Homo sapiens: one gene and its partner. The protein of the gene in region 2 interacts with the protein of the main gene of each other region in a pairwise test. Each region holds a gene or a part of one and is shown on either strand. Other genes may lie near its edges. The genes, in order: HOPX and EPC1.

Region 1 (3,828 bases), on a different chromosome or scaffold from region 2:
CTACACATACAATGGAGAATCAAGTAGATAAAATTGTCATATTGCTCTGTAGACATCCAATCACTTTAGAACATTAAAATGTTCTTTCTAAAAATGTTCTCATTCCTAATGCCTGACTCTGAAAAGAGCTGTTCATTTGTAATTCTGGGGATGTGACATCATGATTGGTTTTTTTGAAAATATATGCTGGGTTCTACGGTATTTTTGCCTGAGCTCAAATTACATAGTAAGATACATCAGAGACCTGTGTGGTGTTGCACATGCACCATGGGTAGATTTTCAGGCTGCCCAATCACATGCCTTTCCTTAGGCCATTAGACTGTCTACTGCAAGCAGACAGAACTTCCTCAGGTTAGTTGTGTATTTTGAAAAGTCCAGAAAAGAGTCTTTGACAGAATGGAATTATCTCTTTGCATAAATATATATTAATAGATTATTATTTTTATGGTCCAACTACCATTCTTATTTTATGACTATAATTAGGTCATGGATAAAATGACCCACAGCTGGTACCTTGCAGAGCTCCAAATTATGCCAAAGTCCAACCACCCATGCTGCTTGTTGCCATGCTACTCAGTGATATGGACCTGATTTTTTTCCCCAGTTGAGTGGTTTTTATGAGCAGGTGTTCAGCTAATAGGACAAACAGAGGGTGTGCAGCTTTAGCCAGCTCATTAACATCACGAAATAATTGAAAAGGACAGATACACCAGAATGTCCAGCTCAGGGGACAGCTTTGAACCTACAATAGATCACTTTTCTGAGCATCAGCCGTGATACTGCAGAAAGAGATTGAGTGAAGCTTCAGAAGACCCGGAGTCTCCTTCCAGCTCTATCACATAGTCTCCAGGTAACTTTGGACAACTGTCTTAATTGCTTTAGACGTCCATTTCATCATCTACTATTGAAGCTATTAACCTGCCCCACCTGTCACACAATGTTGTAGGATTCCATGAGATGGATTATGTTTATGAATGGCACTATAAATTATCAACACTACATAAATACAAGGTACCATTATTAAGGTTCTAATCTAGCTTTCCCAGTGACTCAGGATATAATTGGGCAACAAAATGACATCAGGTTTTGCAATCATTAAAATGGCAAAACATTTTAGAAACTTCACTCAACCTCATGACTAATAAGATTTCTTAGAACATTTCATTTGCTTTTTCTGGGTAATCAGTAACCAATATCGAGAAATAAAATGCTTCTAGAATTTATAAAGCCAAGTTTAAGAAAATGACATTTGGCTGGGTACAGTGGTTCATGCCTGTAATCCCAGCACTTTGGGAGGCTGAGGTGGGAGGATCACTTGAAGCCAGGAGTTCCAGACCAGCCTAGGCAACATGGAGAAACCCCGCCTCTACTAAAAATACAAAAATTAGCCAGGCATGGTGGCACACGCCTGTAATCCCAGCTGCTCTGGATGCTGAGGGACAAGAATCGCTTGAACCCGAGAAGTGGAGGTTGCAGTGAGCCGAGATGATGCCACTGTACTCCAGCCTGGGCGACAGAGCAAAACTTTGTCTTAAAAAAAAAAAAAGAAAAGAAAGAAAGAAAAGAAGATGACATTGAATGCAACCACCCACTGCTAAATTTGATTGGCTAAAAAATTATTATTATTATTACTTGAGATGGAGTCTCACCTGTCTATTTTTGTATTTTTAGTAGAGACAAGTTTTTGCCATGTTGGCCAGGCTGGTCTCGAACTCCTGAGCTCGGGTTGTCTGCCTGCCTCAGCCTCCCAAAGTGCTGGGATTACAGGTGTGAGCCACCGCACCCAGCCTGACTGGCTAAAAAAAATTTTTTTAATAAAAAAAAGAAAAGAAAATTATATTGAGAAGGGGAGATCACTGAAGATTGTGCTCTTTTAGTTCTAGAAAATTATTTGTCACTCAATCTCTTATTAAAGTACAAGGGAACATGGAGAAGCTTGTAAATGTTTGAAATACTAACTGGTTACATTATGCCTCCATTTATCATGGACAGTTCAATATTCCATGCTGTGTGAATAAAACATAAAACCTCTAGCCCACTCCTTTCCCTTTCTGTTTCCCATGAACCAGATCTAAAGGGTGGTAGAACAAACATATGAGAATATTCATTACAGCATCATTTCAGAGAATTGGAGGCAAGAAAGATGTCCATTACTGCAGGAGTCAATAAGTAAAAGATACATATAATTAACAGACTATTGATAATAATGCATTAGAAATATCATCAACAACATAGATACATCTTAAAATTATAGTGTTCAGTGAAAAGAAAGAGAGAAAAGAGGGAGAGTGGGAGAGCAGGAGAAATGGAATGAGATATAAAACCTAAGAGGGGGTCTTGTGTATGCCATGAATTAAGGACTATGTTAACTCATCATACGCCTAAAGACAAACAAAAAAAAGGGCTTTAAAAAATAAAAGATTGGTGGACTGCCCCATCTTTCAGAGCTTGTCTGTGTAATTAATTCTTTCCACTATATTTTTTGTATAATGAGGGGAGTACTTCATGGCTTACTTAATGTCCTTTATACTGCAGCCCCACCAATCCTTGGTCTTGGATTTTTTCCTCAAAAGCCAAGATGAAGAGCTGGTTATTGACCTCCACGACATCCTTCCATGCTTTTCAACACCATCATTCAGTGGCTTTATAGCCTTCTCTTGTCCAAGCTAAATAACATCAGGCCTTTCTGTGTTCCTTATAGATCTGATTTGAGTGTGTGTGTGTAGTCTCGCTCTGTCACCCAGACTGGAGTGCAGTGCTGTGATCTTGGCTCCCTGCAGCCTTCGCCTCCCGGGTTCAAGCGATTTTCCTGCCTCAGCCTCCTGAGTAGCTGGGATTACAGGCATGCACCAACATGCCCATCTAATTTTTGGATTTTTAGTAGAGACGGGGTTTCACCATGTTGGCCAGGCTGGTCTTGAACTCCTGACCTCAGGTGATCCGGCCACCTCATCCTCCCAAAGTGCTGGGATTACAGGCATGAGCCACTGCACCCAGCCCTAATTTTACTATTGTTTAGTCAACTATTGTTTAACTCTTGAGTTAGTTCCAAGGACTCTCCTCCCTTTTCAGCTGTGGAACCCTGAGCCAGGTACAGTGTATTAATGAAAGTAGGGGTGGCCTCCTGCTTTCTTCCCTCCTGCTTCATAAATCCCAGTTCCAGCCATCTCCAAAGATGCTAGTCTATGTCCCAGGAAGAGGGTAAGGCATATACAATAAAGTGATAGATACTTCCAACATTAGTTATTAAATTAAATATTAGCCACTGAATTAAAGTTTTTTGTAAAACAGATTTCACTCCTGGCACCAGCAAACTGAAAATCTGGAAAGGGTTGATGGAGATATCAGGGCTAAGGAAGATTGTTTATGTACATTTCCTTAGGGAGAAGCCACAAGGAAGAAGTGAAAATACATCAACAACGACTAGACTATCTAAGCAGATCTGTCATGACCTTAAGAATCCTAGGAAATTTTCCTCATGATCCTAGATGGAATGACTAGACCTAACAGCCAAAATGACTGCCACTGGTTTCCTGCCCAGTATACACTAAGAGATTAGAACTGATCAATGTCTGCCTCAGGTTTTTGTTTCATTTCTTTCTGAACATACAAGGACAGAGTAGATCATTTGTGAAAGGTCTGGCACTGTTTTCATGTTTGGTCACATTTTATCAAAACTACCAGAAGCAAATTACAAGAAATTATGTGGAGATGGGTAAAATTAACTTCTCTACTTTTTATTTATTTGTTTGTTTTAGAGATGGGGTCTTGCTATGTTGCCCAGACTGGAGTACAGTGGCATCGTGATCATAGCTCACTGCAGCCTCG
Region 2 (3,828 bases):
TACCTATTATTACAGGATTTAATACACCTAATCAAGAAAGATTTTCTACAGTTTATAAATGTGTTGAAGGCAACAGTTAGCATCAATAAATTAAAAGCAATTCTAGGGCCAGGTGCAGTGGTTCTCGCCTATAATCTCAGCACTTTGGGAGACCAAGGTGGGTGGATCACTTGAGCCCAAGAGTTTGAGAACAGCCCAGGCAACATGGTGAATATTTAAAAATAAAAATAGAAAAAATTAGGCGTGGTGGTGTGTACCTGTAGTCTCAGCTACTTGTAAGGCTGAGGTGAGAGGACTGCTTGAGCTAGGGAGGTTGAGGCTGCAGCTGCAGTGAGCTATGATCGTGTCACTGCTCTCCAGCCTGGGTGACAGAGCAAGACTTTGACTCAAAAAAAAACCCGCAATTCTAGCAAGTTGTTTAAAACATTTGAATCCCTTGTCTTCTCATTGATTTCTCAGAATTTGGTTTATTCTTACCAAAAAGTTATTGTTATCAATGCAAGTCACACTTCAGTGTTCCAAAAGTCTACTTTAAAAGTAAATACATACTCTAGTTGTCTCTGAAAGTATGTCATACTTTCATATCACTTTTGCCCTTAGACACGCTCAATTCTTTTTATTCCTGAATTACAATATAAAATTCTCATTTCCTTGTGCATCTCTTCTTCTAAGAAGTACAATCACAAATGATACAATTCCATGGTATTATTGCTCCCTTAAAATGCTATCTTCTGCTTTTAACTAACTGCTGTTAACAATTAAGCATCCTTAACTTTTCAAGAAAATTGAGTAATAAATGTAATCAGAAATCACATCTTTACATACATAAAAAGGACTCTTGCCATTACTAAGTGCTTTAAAACATGGACACATGTCTGTGTGTGTGTGTCTGTGTGTGTGTATAGATTCTATGTTTCTACCATTACTACCAGTACATACCATGACACAGTAGAATGCAAAATATAAAACTAAAACCCAGCCATTTTTAACAGGATTGGTTGGTATATTTAATCCTGCCCACACATTCATGAACCTTTATGCAGAATTTTTTCTCTCGTTTACAAAATTTAAGCTACACTGTAGGCAGTACTTTTAATTAAGTCCTATTAACAGAAAAAAATGTAATTCAGTACAAATGCCATTGCTGATCATGAAAAGCACCCACAAAATACCATTAGATACATAAACACATTCAAATGGTATACTGAAACAAAAGTTAATACTAACATTTCAGGTGCATAGGCATGTAAAGTGTTCAAAAGGTCCCTTCTGTATTCAAGAATCCTTAGTCTCTTCCTGGACTGCCTGTCCTTTTTCAATTATCCTCCTTTGACTAAGTCTATTTAGTAACTGCCAAACTGAGATAAAACCAAAATGACTCAGTTTGAAATTTATGGAACAGCTGATCTTAACCCCTGGGCTTTCTGCCCCAGCCCATTACCGATACTTTGAGAAATTGATGACAAGTGTGAACCTTCTCCCTAGAAAAATATATTCTAACATTTTATAGGCATATGGTGGGAATCCATCACTTCCAGAATTATTTCCACATAATCCTCAGAACCCTAGCTTAGCAACTTTATGCAAAAATACCTTTGGACAGTATAGAAAGCTGAAACATTTTATTAATTCTCTTTGATTTTATCTGAAGTAATTGTAATCTAATGCAAAAATCCCCATACTCTCAATTCTTTTCTAATTCAAACTATCTGTAATTAGTTTGTTAAACTTTGCTTCTACTATAATTGAGATTTCATGTATTTCTCTTCACTTCCAAGAGAGTGGATAGAATGGAGAAATCTAGATTGATCTTTACAGCTCCAGATAAAGGGACTAAAAATATTGGTTTAAAATATTAAAGGTTAAAGAAAGAGACTGTTGGTTTCTTTCAAAGTGATTTAAATTTAAACTAGGTTTTTATTACTAAGTTTTGGAAATGGGGTAACCATTTTTTTCTCATATCAAGGATATGTACATATTTCCCATTTCCCCATAATTAAAAACAAACAACTCCCATCCACTTCTTATAAATAGTTCTTAACTTGGGCTTAGTAACAATGTATATTGTGCCAGTAATACAGAAAAGGTGGGAGTATAAAGACCATCCTGTCCTGTTAGAATCCTATAGAACCAAGGTGCTGGATTATGGTGGTTAGATCCTACTTGTAACAGTTTCAAAGGTGACTGTAGGGTAGTATCAATATGAAAACATCATTAACATCTTAATTACACCAAATCTCCTCCCCAAACCAGTCTAGGTAACAGGAGAGGAAAGGTTAAGTTGCCACCCCCTCATAAATGGAACAACGCACCCTAGACAACCCAATGAAAAGTTAAACTACTGTGGAACAGTAGCTCCATTTTGCTAAACATCATTTTAAAATCGACTTTTTAAAAGTGATGTTTCCATAAAGGAGAATTGTTAACAACATAAAGCTCCAATTTTAATCAAGAGTCAATTTTAATAAAAAGATTTGATAGTATTAATCCATTTGGTAAGTTTAACCTTTCAATAGAATGCGAAGCCGTAGCACAAGATTTAAGATTATAAAGATAATTAAATTATAATCTTAAAGTTAACATTGTAAAATATTCATAATAGGACATATGCCCCACACCAACCAAGCACTTGTTTAAACTTTTATCTTTTTTTAAACCCCAAAGGGACTCAATTATCTCAGAGCTGAAAGTCTATTATTTCGCTGTGATTTAAGTCACATCTGTACTTCATTAAATACATTGTTTTCATCATCCGTTACTTTATTTTTAATTAAATTATTTTTTCTGAAACGAGTTTCGCTCTTCTTGCACAGGCTGTGAGTGCAGTGGGGGGATCTCAGCTCTCTGCAACTTCCACCTCCCGGGTTCAAGCGATTCTCCTGCCTCAGCCTCCCGAATAGCTGGGATTACAGGCAGCTGCCACCACGGCTGGCTAATTTTTGTATTTTTAGTAGAGACAGGGTTTCACCATGTTGGCCAGGCTGGTCTCGAACTCCTGACCTCAGGTGATCCACCCGCCTCGGCCTCCCAAAGTGCTGGGATTACAGGCGTGAGCCACCGCATCCTGCCAATCTGTTACTTTCAGACTTAGCAAATTTCGATGCATTACATTCTGCGAATTCACATTTAATCTCTAACATCTTTGACCCAGTCAAATCCTTCAATTTACCACAATCTGAAGTTACTTTTTCAGTACTACTACAATTAAAAAAATAGATAAGTTCAGTAACATTTTCTGCCTCCAAATTATTTTGGGGGGGGGGTGTAAGGGCTTCTACTTAAAGTTGTTTCTTAAAAAGTCTGCCTCGTTAGGCCCGTGTGTGCAGCTCATAGTATTAAAACTGGTTAAATGGGAATACACGAATAATACTTATTTTCCCAATGTTAAAAGACCTGGATTTCTGTCAAGTATATCCAGAAACAACGTAACAATTACTAGGTGTATTTCACATGACAATTCTGCAGATTATTTTGATCAATAAAATGCTTTAATCAGGTGGTGTATAAAAAAACTGCCCTCACCTTTCAGGACCAACATAGGACTACATACTTTTTTTTCTAAGACAGTCAGTTCAGGTTCTAGGTTACAGTGACCTAATAAGATAACAAATAACTAATGTGTCAGTTAAAGGCAGAAGTTTGCTTTAACCCTTCCTCTTTATTAGAAGTACAAAATACTTCCGCACATCAAAAAGTTTGTTTTTCTATGGAGAATCCAGAATTCAATTACCTTTATGTTTAATATACCTTTTCAACACTGCATAACACACTACTTTCAATATTATGATTTACACACCCTACCACTAACAGCATGAACCACAGGACTGT

The links.
Region 1: the proteins of EPC1 (region 2) and HOPX interact in a two-hybrid assay, tested with the Homo sapiens proteins (one study listed by BioGRID).

The regions. Positions count from the first base shown.
Region 1 is NC_000004.12:56,671,006-56,674,833, forward strand, and holds part of HOPX (homeodomain-only protein), read right to left. Parts: intron 1-3,828. UniProt on the Homo sapiens protein: Atypical homeodomain protein which does not bind DNA and is required to modulate cardiac growth and development. Acts via its interaction with SRF, thereby modulating the expression of SRF-dependent cardiac-specific genes and cardiac development.
Region 2 is NC_000010.11:32,340,442-32,344,269, forward strand, and holds part of EPC1 (enhancer of polycomb homolog 1), read right to left. Parts: intron 1-3,828. UniProt on the Homo sapiens protein: Component of the NuA4 histone acetyltransferase (HAT) complex, a multiprotein complex involved in transcriptional activation of select genes principally by acetylation of nucleosomal histones H4 and H2A.